Homo sapiens: one gene and its partner. The protein of the gene in region 1 interacts with the protein of each later gene in a pairwise test. Each region holds a gene or a part of one and is shown on either strand. Other genes may lie near its edges.

Region 1 (7,028 bases):
GCTAAAGTTCCTTCAAAACAATCATTTCTGTGTGAAATCATATGAATTTATACTTTATTCCTGATCTTCCTCACTAGGTGCCTATAATTTTGAGAGAAGGTATTATACCTGCCTTCTTTATCACTGTATCCCCAGCACCTGGACCATTCCTGGAACACAGCTGACATTCAGTAAATATCTATGCATCAATTAATAACAAACTAAATTCTCATATAATCACATAACTGTTCATTTTCAATTATTGTCCAATTTCAATTCTGATGCCAAACAGCTCTGAAGGAACAAAAATGCAGTCCTAGGCAGACCCTCAGTGCAAATACAACAGCAAATCAAGCCAAAGAGCACGCTTGATCATTACTAGTCATTGCCACAAGAGGGACCAGTACCTTTTTATTATCCACAACTTTATGGACATAGATGGTGGCTTGAGTGTATTCACGCAGGTCCCTCTGCTGCTGACACAATAAGCCTTCTCTGCATTCTGGACAGAGTTCTTTGGGGGAAAAAAAAAAAGGGAAAACAGAAGTGGCTGAGGAATCATTGTTAAAGAATCAAAGATCTAAAAACATATGTCAAAGTTACTAGTGAATATTCATTAAACTCTTAGTAACATTTTCTTTTTTTGAGACAAGGTTTTGCTGTGTCACCCAGGCTGGGGTACAGTGGTATGAACATAGCTCACTGTAGCCTCAAGCTTCTGGGCTCAAGCCATGCTCCTGACTCAGCCTCTCAGCGAGTAGCTCAAGACTACAGATATGTGCTACATTTTTATTATTTTGTAGAGAGAAGGTCTTGTTATGTTGCTCAGGCTGGTCTGAAACTCCTGGCCTTAAGCAATCCTTCCACCCTAGTCTCTCAAAGTATTAGGATTATAGGTATGAGCTAGTGTGCTGGCCCAAACTCTTAATAATATTTTCTATTAACCACTATATTCTATTACATGCAAATGATAAGGAAATCCATTTACTGTCCATAAATAAACGTACAAATAATGGGATGATTATAATGAGAGTTTCCACCTAGGGAGTTGGGACCGCCGCATGATCTTTAACTTTAAGCAGACAACACTGACACACCCTTTCTTCTTAAAATGTCAGCTCTTAACTATAGAAACCGAAAGCAATATGAAAACTTACTGGGCTCAGAAATATACTGTGTTTCTGAAGGGTTTACATCTCCCACTTCAATTCTCGTGATTTTAATTACATGATCCACAACAAAGAGCTTTTGTATCATTTGCCACTCACTGGGCCATATGAGAGCTATACTGTGCAAAAAAAAAACACAACATGCCTTAAGACACATGGAAATTAAGAGAATTAACATAATCCATTAGTCTGCTAAACCAAAACCATTAACACTAACATTTAATCCAAAGGAATTAGAGAGAAAAGATACGTATCATCAACAAAGAATAGTTTTTCATACAAAGGAATGTTACCACAGCAGCGAAACTAAATGGACTGAAATTACATGAATCAACATGGTTAGATCTCAAAAACATAATTGAGTAAAATAAGTTAGTTGCAGAAGTATAAATACAGTATGGTGCCATTTATATAAAAAGTTTTAAATATGCAAGACATTATGTGCGTGCATTTTTTTTTTTTACAGAATACTTTCTGAGACAGATAAACTCTAAATTCAGTACAGTGGTTAGTGTGAGAGGAAGGGTGGGAGAAAGAGAAGTAGCAACAGAAGGATAAGCACTGTGGGGCCTTTAATCATATTTGAACCATTTAACTTTTAAACTGAATGGTAACACACATTTGCTTACTGGTGTATTTTCCTGGAAGTCTGACATTTGCAATAACAACGACAGGAAGAAAGGGAGGGAGGAAAGAGAAGAGAGATGCACAGCGAGAGTGAGAGAGCAACAGGGAAGGCGGGATGCAGAGAGGGAGGGAGAGAAAGAGGAGGGAGAAAATGTAGAGAATATATAAACTTTGAACTCCCTTAAATGATGTTAAAGTACTGAAATATGAATAATAAAACTCTAGCTTAACCCCAAGGGCATTTTTATTTATGTGTTCCAATTTCCTTTTCCTGATTTTCTGACAATGTTGGAAGCATTCTACCTTCTCGTATATCACGATTTTTGGTAAAATCGGGAGAAATTCACAGATGAACACCTCTGGAAGTACTTGAAGCATGGAATAAAATTTGGGTTCTAAGACCCTAGAATTCCAGATGACCAGTGCAGTGGCTTTGCTCTGCCACCCTGCTAGCCTCCTCCTTTAATTGTCTGAAGCCTGGCCATGGCAGAACAAAACCTATAACCAAGACCATGTTGATTCTGTGATTCTGGAAAAGAGGTCTCAGCACTGGTCACCAGCAGCGGGGGAAGAGAAAGGGTGGCTGTGTTGTCTTCAAGAGGGACAAGGAAAGAGCAAAAAGACAAATAGCCTCGGGCAGCCTCTTGTCTTTCCTGGAGAAGCAGTCTTCTTCTCTTTTAAAAGGGGAAAAAAAAACCCCACAATTCAGCAAAGGACTAAATTCTTAAAACAGACTATGTCAGATGAGAAATTTCCTAAACATATTTTATTAATCATCAAAAAGAGAAAAGAAGAAAAAAAAATCACATGAAGAGAAGGAACTCACAGTTTAGAATCTTCTTTGGTCATGGAAGCAAATGTAAACATGAGGCCCCCGTGGGGACACAAAAGAGCACTGTTCCCAACTGATGACACAGGGCTGCATCTTGTAGGCTTTCTACTCAAATGAGACAAGGAGGAGAAATATACCTAATTACTGCATGACGAAAGAGAAGATTTTAAAATAATTATTTCAAAATCAGAGATATATTTAAGAAAATATTAGTAATTCAATGTGTTTCTTAGGCTTATTCATTTAATTAATAGAAAAGAAAGCTTTCAGTGTATGCTGGTGAAAGTAACCATGAAGGAAGGGTACAACAAACAGAATCCACGATATCTTAAAAAATACCAGAGTCAACCAAATCAGTAACAATAAAGGAAATAAAACATATTTTGTTTCTACCTAACAAATTTCCGCCACTCTTCTACAAAGAACTGAGACACGATGTAGAGGACATCCGTATCCTAGAACACAAAAATCACAAAACAGTATCCGTCAATTCACCGCCTGCTTAACACAAATTCCTTATAATATACTTTGGTTGTCCTTATTCAAGTTTTATAAATAAAATGAAAACACAGTCCTCTACCAAAAAATAGCAGGCTGGAGTAAATCCCCTGGTTAGATAACTAAACAAATGAGAATATGAGAAGTTCTGGGTTGTTCTGAAATAGCTCACTGGGAATTTGGCAAGGGCTTTAAAAAGAAAAGATGCATTCTTTCTTTTGTGGGAATCATTATACCTCTGGCCAGTTACTGAGACACGGTCTGTTTTTATCCTGGAACAAATTTGGGAGAGAAGTCTTTTGCTCGTTTGCAATCATCTTATGTAAGGCTTCATTTTCTTCCCCTTCTCTTTCTAAAATCTGAAAGAGAATGAAGCAATCAACTGTCTCCTGCTGACAGCACATGACCTGCCTCCTCCCTACACCCCCGTCAGAAGTACAGTGTTAATTCCCCTGGGAAGTCAACCCAGGGAGGTGGCATGCCATTTCCCCAGATGTCAGTAGCGTTCAGTACCTTGCACTGTGAACAGCACTCTTTGTAACTTGGAAACTCAGGAGCCTTTGGAAAGTACTGCTGCAGTTTGCTCCAAGCCTCTTTAGAAACAAGCCTTCTTTCATTTTCAGATATGCATAACTCACCTGAGTTTAAAAAAATATATTTGGAAAAAAAAAAAACAGCTGAAAAAAAGTCATTATCTATTTCCTATTTCTTAAACTTAAGAAAAATCCACAGGTACGCTTTTCTTGCTTTGCTAAAGTTTGGTATTTCTAGCTCTCTTTTCTTGTTTTCAAAAACTTCTGAATTTCCGATTTCATTTTAATTCTAAAGGAGGTAGCCATTAACCTCAATTTTACGTCCTTAATCTAGGTCTGTGATTGAAAAAAAAATCATGAGATAAAAACAAACGTACAAAGCTAAAACCGTGCATTTTCTTTCTCCTTGCAAGGAAGGAAGTAGTCAAAAATGGGATTCCAGGAGTCCTGGGACCTCTGTGCCATGGCAAGCGCTGCTTAACAAAATTACATCTACTCCCACACTCAAAGGTTATCATTTCCTGCAGACTTTATTGCCTCCCATTTGACTAATCTTGAAATCACACTGCATTAAAATAATATTTTGTAAGCTGTGTCCAGCCATCACAAGACCACTGCCTTAAGTTATCAATTCAAAGTTATCAATTCAAACAGAAGATAAAGCAATCTACTGCTCAATCTGAAAACCATCTCCAGTCAAGCACCAACTTCTTTGCTATTTGCAATTTATTTTGAAGATCCCCTTCAATCTTCAAAAATCCCAGAAGATATAAAAAAATAATACTAGTCACCGCCACCCTGCCAGGACCTTTCTCCTCTGGCTCTACTTGTGGTTATACTTACTGTTGTTTCAGCTGTTCCCAAGCAGTAAGTTAGTGAACTTCACTTATCTACCCATATCGGTCATTACCCAGAAAACTATCTTTAAATTTCTAAAGTCATATGTTTGTTTCTGCACCCATTGGCAAGGTACCTACAGATTTATTAAGAGTAATAAAGCCATGAGCTTTCTAAATACATACTACACTTTCCATAATAAATGAATTTAGAAAGATGAATATAACCAGGCAGAGTACAGCTAGTGAGTAATAAAGCTGGGATACGAAACCAGGTCTATAGGCCAGGCACAGAGGCTTGCTCCTGTAATCCCCAGCACTTTCGGAGGCTGAAGCAGGTGGATCACTTGTCAGGAGTTTGAGACCAGCCTGGCCAACATGATGAAACCCTGCGTCTACTAAAAATACCAACATCAGCCAGGTATGGTGGTGCTTGCCTGTAGTCCCAGCTACTCCAGAGGCTGAGGCAAGAGGACTCCTTGAGCCTAGGAGGCAGAGGTGGCAGTGAGCCAAGATAACCACCATTGCACTCTGGCCTGGGCAACAGAGAGAGACGCCATCTCAAAAAAACAAAACAAAACAACACAAAACAAAACAAACAAAACAAAACTAGGTCTGAGGCTGGGCTTGGTGGTTCACACTTGTAAGCCCAGCACTTTGGGAGGCTGAGGGGAGCAGATCACGAGGTCAGGAGTTTGAAACCAGCCTGGCCAACATGGCGAAACCCCGTCTCTACTCAAAATACAAAAATTAGCCAGGTGTGTGGCAGGCACCTGTAATCTCAGCTACTCAGGAGGCTGAGGCAGAAGAATCGTTTGAATGCAAGAGGCAGAGGTTGCAGTGAGCCAAGATTGTGCCATTCCACTCCAGCCTGGGCGAGGAGCAAGACTCTGTCTCAAAAAACAAAAACAAACAAACAAACAAACAAACAAACCCAGGTCTATAGCTCATTCGAACCCCATAATATATTTTAAAATTTATTTATTTATTTAATAGAAAACAGGCCGGGGGCAGTGGCTCACGCCTGTAATCCCAGCACTTTAGGAGGCTGAGGTGAGTGGATCACAAGGTCAGGAGTTCAAGACCAGCTTGACCAAAATGGTGAAACCCTGTCTCTACTAAAAATACAAAACAAATTGGCCGGGAGTGGTGGTGTGCACCTGTAATTGCAGCTACATGGGAGGCTGAGGCAGGAGAATCGCTTGAACCCGGGAGGCAGAGGTTGCAGTGAGCCAAGATCGCACCATTGTAATCCAGCCTGGGTGACAGAGCAAGACTCCGTCTCAAAAAAAAAAAAAAAAAAGAAAGAAAAGAAAAGAAAAGAAAAGAAAACAGAGTCTCATTCTGTCCCCTGGGCTGGAGTACAGTGGCACGATCATAGCTCACTGCAGCCTCGACCTCCTGGGCTCAAGCGATCCTCCTGCCTTAGCCTCCTGAGTAGTCTGGCTAACAGGCATGAGCCACCATGCCCGCCTAATATTTTATTTTGTAGAGAGGGAGTCTCTCGAACTTCTGGTTTTAAGCAACCGTCCTACCTCAGCCTCCAGAAATGCTGGGATTATAAGCATGAGCCACTATGCCTGGTCCCTATAATTTATAATACCTCAGAATGCAACTTAACTTCTACCCCTCACCTCTTCTGGATCTTTGAATAATCCCCAAAAGATTATTTTGCTTTAACAGACTTGTTACCAGAGAAATGGGGTCAGAATGTAAACATGTATTTCCTTCTGGGTGGGCTGTTAATTTAAATTTCCCGTGAGTCTATGAAAACTTATTCTAACGTGCCCATCCTCAGACACAATTAGGGAATTTATTTTTAAAAATGAAAGAAAAAGGTTAATTGGATTATCAAACCTTAACTTAGTAAGTCCTTATGTGAAATACAACGTAACCATAAAAAAGATTAAGGTAGATTTCCATGACCTGATTTGGAAAGAACTCCACGGCAACTACAATATTTAAATGGTTTCCTTTTTATGCTTTAAAAAAAAAAAAAGAGAGCTTCTTTGTGTGTGGTATAACCCCATGTGGTTATGAGGAAACAATAATGGGAATGCACACACAAACTTTACTATTAAATGAGCAGAGGAGACCACAGACACTGTGGGTGCACGGCTTCATTCTGATGTGGGGGTACTTTTAGGTAGTGACTGGCTTTTAAGTGGGATGAGTGTTTTTCATATGACAAGGAAAGAACAACCCAAATTCATTTCTGAGATCAGAATAATATTAAATAGTCATTTTACTGTAGTCTAGTTGGTAATAAAAATATATAGTCCTTCACTCTACTTGTTAGCTGAGTTTCTAAATATAATTTCCTATTATTCTAATAATTACTACCATAGTAGTTGTTAATATATCATTAATATTAACTATGAATATTAATACAATTAATTAAATTAATGTAATGAATGATAATGAAGTAAATATACTTGAATATTGTCTATGACCTCAAAATAGTTAAATAAATTTGGGTTGCTCTTTTCACTGGGACACATAAATTGTTAGAAATTAAACTTGTATCCTGCAATGAAACATGTTATTTCTTAAA
Region 2 (7,028 bases), on another chromosome or scaffold:
TTTGAGACGGAATTTTGCCCTTGTTGCCCAGGCTGGAATCCAATGGCTCGATCTCGGCTCACCGCAACCTCCATCTCCCAGGTTCAAGCGATTCTCCTGCCTCAGCCTCCCAAGTAGCTGGGATTACAGGCATGGGCCGCCATGCCCAGCTAATTTTTTTGTATTTTTAGTAGAGAAGGGGTTTCTCCATGATGGTCAGGCTGGTCTCAAACTCCCCACCTCAGGTGATCCACCCTCCTTGGCCTCCCAAAGTGCTGGGATTACAGGCGTGAACCACTGCACCCAGCTGACACATTTCTTAAATATGCAAAGCTTCAGTTTTATTACCTGTTAAAAGAAAAAGCCTAGAAATATTGTATAGTAGTTGTGAGAATTAATGAGAATAAATGGTAGCTATTCTTAATATTTATTTATTTATTATTTATTATTTCTCTCCCCTGAGCCTTTTGAACTGAAAGGGAAGGTAACATCTGAAATGGGAATTTGGAGACAGACTTATAGGGAGCAATATTTGTGGGAGAAGGAAGGAAATAACAGCTAAGAACTAAAACGAAAAGAGTGTGCTCAGTGACCAGTGATGCATTTTACTGACATCTTTGCCACTAGAATCTTTACAAGCTACTCCTAAATTCTCTGGTTCTCTGAAGAGGAGGTAAAATTCAGGTAAATTTCATGTTGTTTCACCAAAGCCTATGTCATCATCCTTTAGAAAATGGCTTATAGGGGCCAGGCATGGTGGCTCACGCCTGTAATCCCAGCACTTTGAGAGGCCGAGGCAGGTGGATCACAAGGTCAGGAGTTCGAGACGAGCCTGACCAACATGGTGAAACCACGTCTCTACTAAAAATACAAAAGTTAGCCGGTGTGGTAGCACACACCTGTAATCCCAGCTACTCAGGAGGCTGAGGCAGGAGAACCGCTTGAACCCAGGAGGCAGAGTTGCAGTGAGCTGAGATCGCGCCATTGCACTCCAGCCTGGGCGATAGAGCGAGACTCTCTCTCAAAAAAAAAAAAAAAAAAAAAAAAAGAAAAGAAAAGAAAATGGCTCATAGGCTCTGTGTAGTTCACCAAATTGGCATCTGCTGGTATTTGGGGGTGATGGAGTTGGGGAGAGGGATAGGGTGGCAGTGCGTGGTCTTTCAGAATCTCTAGGGAGCCACGTTGGTGGTGATCTGCTCCTTCTCTGAAGTCAGCTTTTCTGTTGTCAGCATCTGACTATGGTTTTAAAACCTGCCTGTGATAAGGAGGCGTTTCACATGTCTCACGTGTGAGAAGAGGCCAGTGGGGTGGCACTGCCCATCTTGTTGTCATCCTTGGTGTCCCGGATATTCCCTGTTGGTCCCTCCACCTAACTTTCTACCTTTTCCTACCCACTCTGGGTTCTGGGAGGCTGACCTCTAAATTTTATATATGAGCTACTTCTTTTAAAAAGTCAGGGTCAGATAGGGGTATGGTATGCTTCTATTTGTGTAATAATGAATACACATACACATACATAAACATATTTGTGTATGGACATGCACACTGTTGCAAGCATTATCTTGCAAGAATATTAATGTTTGTTTCTAGGGAGGGAGATGGGAGAATGTAGTAATCTGGGGTAGAAGGGAGACCTACATATAAGTATGTATGTATCTCATGGGCACCTTATGAATGTTTTATGTGCAAGCATTTATTTCTCCATTAAAAATATTGAAAGAGAGAGTTGAGAGGGCATATAGCTATTTCAGGGTCCCTAGTCAACGAAGGCTCTCACATATAATCACAGAACCTGCATTGCCATCTCTTCCTTCCTCCCCTATCTAAGCAAACAGCTTCCCTTTCTTAGATCAAGCATTGCAGCCTCTTCCAGAATGTCCCCATTGCAGGCAGAGTGACACTGGAGGTGGGTGGCCAATGAGTAGGGCCTGCCCCAGCCCCCAGCAGGCCTGGCCCTGGGTGTGTGTCCTGTTGGCAGGGCAGAGTGATGCACCACACAGCAGCAGTTCTGAAACCTTCTCTGCTGTGTACCAAAGAGGTAAGGAAAGCTGTAATGCCCCCCAGAAGCTGACACTTCCCCAGGAGATGAGGTGCCTTGTTTTGATGATTTAACTGCAAGAGTGTTGTTTTGTTAGCACAATAGTTATTGAGCAAGTGCATAAATAATAAATAAATGAGCAAAATGTACAAATGAGCATTTTATATAAACACATGAGCACTCACTGACCAGAGGATAATGGAGAAGGCCTGTGCCGGGGGAGGGGAGGTTACTCCTCCTCTGAGATTAGAGATGCTTATCCCAACTAATCTCAACATTTCAGGAAGAAAGGATGATGATGAAGAGTCATCTATTTACTCATTCTACAAATTTTGTGGAGTACGTACTATGTTTAAAGCACTGTGCTGGGTGAAAAAGACAAAGGCATCTATGAGGCTTTTGCAGGCTGTCTTGGGAAACTGAGACCCACCATGATGTGGACAGCTTGGCTCAGAGCAGGTTTACTTGAAAGATTCATGAACTTCAAATTCATTGATGGATTTGACCCCAGCTTGATTCCAAAGACATGCGGTGCCAATGAATCTGATTTTAGGATGGGCCTGTTATTCTTTTAATTTTGTGCTTCTACTATTCTCTTAACTTTTTGTGCAACTAAGCTCCCCCTCCCCCAACCTAGCTCCAGTGCTCTGAAAACTAGGTGAGATGTTCTATTGATGAAATCAAATAAATAGCACTCCTCCATTTCCTTCTTTCAAAGGAAAATCAAGCCAGCTGATAGAGTTTTCTTAACTTTAAGTTTCTCCTCCCTTGAAGATTTCTTAAACTCTTATCATCAGCTTATTCACTCTTTGCTTATTCATTCTAGATTTTTAAAAATAACACAATAGCTTTCTGATTTAGCAGGAATTTAAATACTAGTTATTTTTCTTATCTATGCAATGAAAGGGTTGGGCTGCTCATTCAGGCATCTTCAGAGTTTCCTTTGGCACCAGCACACCATGCTCTGCTGTATCAGGGTCTGTTGATGATGTGATATTTGCCTAGACTGCTGGGCCTCTGCTGGGAGTTAAGGCAACCCTGGCCAGCCAGGCCCCTGCCTCGGAACTCTCTCACCCAAAACCCTGCCTCATATTGACCTTTCATCTGAGAACAGGAGCAACTCCAAGTTGGAAGAGACTGAAGTTCAACTTTTCTGTATCTTATGTTCTCTAATAATTCACAATTTCGTGTGGCAGCCCATGGCATTAAAAGAAGAGCTCTGCCAGAAAGTTCTTTTTTTGTGTTGCACTTATTAGTGAAAGTCCAGCTGCTTCCAATATCAGGTGTTATTGGCAGGATCCTGCCCTCTCCCCCTTGATTTTCCACAGAAGGTGTAGAAAAAATGACTGAGAAGAGTCCTTTATATTGGGCTTTCAAATGAAGTTGGGAACTTCCTTATAGATGAGAGAATTGCTGCAGGAACCCACATCTATCAAGATAATGAAGCTGTACAGTGAAGGTCAGCTTGAGGCAGAGGAGGACAGCTGGGCCTGAGCTTCACTTACTAAATCCCCTAACTGTGTTCTAGGAAGGGGCGACTGATCTCTAAAACCATCAGCAGAACTCTTACGACTGCAGATGTATAGTTACATTTTGATGTATAAACTTTTCCAATAAATAATAACAACCATAACACCAGCTAATATCTACTGAGCTCTTACAATGGAACCTGACACTTTAACACAATATATGAATAATTGGAAGGCTTGCTAGAGTGCTATTAATAAACTTAAATGTAAAAGACAGAGCGATTGTGAGAGACGAGAGAGAAGTGAGAGCGCACATACTAAGTCACAGGCCTTTTCTGCCTTCTCAATTCTATACTTAAAAATCCTTTTGGAAAAAACTTTCCTGAATTTTGTTTCTGGAACAATAATGATCTCACTGGGGGCAACAACACTGCAAATTCATCATTCTTCTTCACTCTGGATGTCGACATTAACCGAGAACTCAGTCTAATGTCAGCTTTTGAGATTGTTTCAACTGTTTCCAGTGTGGTGTGTCTGTGAGAGTGAATAAGACCGCCTCCACCAAGAATGAGTCAGGGGAACCACAGTCAGCCCAGCAGATGTTGGCAGGGATTTGCTTTTGGCTAGAGGGTAAGAAGTGCCTTGGTCTAGCAGTGGTGAGTTTCCCACACTAGAATTTCCAACTAAGAATGCATTTTCATATAGAAACAAGGTTACAGAAGGTGACTTAGTTATCAGACTAACTCATAAAGCACATTTAGCATTCACGAAAAATGATATTTTAGTGCCACAGAGTCAGCCTCTGTAGCTGTGTTAAGGGATGTTGCTTTGTACTGGGCAATGTGTGCATGTTTGTGTGTATAAAGTGTCATTCAGTTAAAATAACAAAGTAATGAAAGGTAAACAGTAACGCAAAGATAACATCACCATATTTTGAGAATAGCCTGGGTTGAACAGGCAAATATTTGTTGATAAGTTGGCTAGTTACCCTTTACTGTGGCAGAGAAACAAGCCAGCCTTGAGTAGGCGGTACGTGCTTGGCATATTTACATATGTTATCCCAATTTAATCCTCATTTAATGGCAAAAATCTCTCTGAAGAAGTTGGAGTGGAGTTATATGTAGTCTTAGATTCTAAAGTCAATAAATAAAGTGAAAATTATATAGACTCCAAATTTGCCTTGAAAATCTGAATCACATGTAAAGATATACATGGTTTTATTATAACCCTGCAGAGTAATAAGTTGTATGGTACATATAGTAATATATCATATATTGTAGAGTTCCTATGGAACATATAATTTTAGAGATGAAATTGCTGGGCTCATTTGTAGGGGGTCATATATAAAAATAAATATTAAAAATGTCTTAACTAAATATGTAGATCAAGTTTACTTATTTTAATTCACTCAAGTGTATGCTCCACTGTAATTTTATCCCACATTTACCAATGAGGAACTCAGAGAAGTTAAGTAACTTGTTTAAGGAGAGACAGCTAGTAAGTCTGGACTTTGATTTGGAGTTTGGACTTAGATTTTACTTACTCCAGAGCCTATACCTATCTTCCAAAATATATTTTGATTTCTAAATCATTGTCCAGCAAATGACACTTGGAAGATTACTTAAAGTTAGAATTTGCCTGTATTTATATGTAATATGTTACATATAATATCTGCATACACACAAGCACATGGCTATGTGACTGGTACATATATACTAGACATTTACAAACCTGGAATATAGGCATTGAATGAATCAATTCAAATGGACAAAATAAGAAATCCAGATGACCACTGGAACACTAATCAAGCAGCTTTTCCTTAGCACGCAGTGTATATTGTCAATACCCATCATGTTACTATGTGGTTTAATACCTTTCATTCGACACGTTAAATTACTGAGGCTGGCCGAACGCGGTGGCTCACACTTGTAATCCCAGCATTTTGGGAGGCCGAGGCGGGCTGATCACTTGAGGTCAGGAGTTTGAGACCAGCCTGGCCAACAGGGTAAAATATAAAATTAGTGGGGCGTGGTGGTGGGTGCCTGTAATCCCAGCTACTTGGGAGTCTGAGGCAGGAGAATTGCTTGAACCCAGGAGGCAGAAGTTGCAGTGAGCCTAGATTGTGCCATTGGACTCCAGCCTGGGTGACAGAATGAGACTTGGTCTCAAAAAAAAAAAAAAAAGAAAAAGAAAAAGAAAAAAAATTAGTGAGGCTAAAAGATGGACATGGTACAAACACAGAAGGCACTGATTCATCTGAGGTATTGGTGTCATGCTTAAAATCCCGAGCATTTCAGACATATATATTGTCCATCCATCCATCCACCCAGGAGATGTACCATGTGCCAACCATCATACCCAGAATTTTTATATTAAAAATAGAAAATATACTCTCCAGGAATTTGGGAATCTATACTGGTTAGTTCTGAAGAATTGGAAATTATTCTTATTGAGTAAAAAGTTAGAAGTATATATCCTACTATAAGACTTTTACAATGTGTTATTTTGCATTGTAGGTCTGTTATGAATTGTTATCTTTTTATTAGCAAACCTTGCCTGAATTATTAATATATATCTTGGTTTTTTTAACTGGTACATTTCTGCAAATGAATACAATGACATTTCTTTCAAAATAAAGATGAGCCAGACTTTTCATTAATTGGGGCAGAACTTTACCCCCTGTGCCAATAATTGATGAGGTTTTGCTTTATATTTTATTTATAACCCACAAAGGCCAAAGCTTTGCATTCTGTGGCATTCTCATTTAATTGCAAAGTACACTGACCGGGGGTCAGAAATTGCAGGGCTGAGCACAACTCACAGCCAGTCATTCAGCTGTGCTGTGAATCACATGGATGCTAGAAATGAAGCCATCACTGTTACCTGTGGTATTAAAGCCAAACAGAAGAGGGCAGGACACAGCAAAGGCCAGTACCCAGACGGCCGTGATCATGAGGGCCACGCGCCGACAGGAGCTCTGTCCCGTGCCATGCTGGTAGTGAACGGGCATGACCACTGCAGTGTACCTGAAAAAGCAAGGGGAGAGGGGATAGGCATGGTGAGATGGAATGGGGTACTTTTCTTTCTGCGTTGTTGTTGTTGTTGTTTTTGGAGACAGGGTCTCACTCTGTCACCCAGGCAGAAGTGCAGTGGCATGATTACTGTTCACTGCAGTTCAACTCCTGGGATCAGATCCTCCTACCTCAGCTTCCTGAGTATCTAGGATATGCCTGTGCCGCCACCACGCCTGCCTAATTATTTTATTTTTTTGTAGAGATGGGGTCTTACTTTGTTGCCCAGGCTAGTCTCAAAGTCTTGGGCTCAAGCAACTCTCTGGCTTCAAGCAAGTCTCTGGCCTCAGCCTCCCAAAGTGTTGGGATTACAGGCGTGAGCCACCAAGTCCAGTGAGGGGAACTTTTCAAAAGACCAGATGAAAGAAGTTCGTAGAGAAATAATCAGGTTGATACATATAGCATGAGAAATATAATTTAGTTAGAGGAAGAGAGAAAAGCAGAAAGGTCAAAAATAGCAGAAAGGTTGAG

What was found.
Region 2: the proteins of USP48 (region 1) and DRD3 interact in a two-hybrid assay, tested with the Homo sapiens proteins (one study listed by BioGRID).

What each region holds. Positions count from the first base shown.
Region 1 is NC_000001.11:21,703,126-21,710,153, forward strand, and holds part of USP48 (ubiquitin carboxyl-terminal hydrolase 48), read right to left. Parts: intron 3,744-7,028; coding exon 3,619-3,743; intron 3,465-3,618; coding exon 3,342-3,464; intron 3,063-3,341; coding exon 3,001-3,062; intron 2,713-3,000; coding exon 2,602-2,712; intron 1,268-2,601; coding exon 1,137-1,267; intron 494-1,136; coding exon 387-493; intron 1-386.
Region 2 is NC_000003.12:114,141,046-114,148,073, forward strand, and holds part of DRD3 (D(3) dopamine receptor), read right to left. Parts: intron 6,513-7,028; coding exon 6,370-6,512; intron 1-6,369. UniProt on the Homo sapiens protein: Dopamine receptor whose activity is mediated by G proteins which inhibit adenylyl cyclase. Promotes cell proliferation.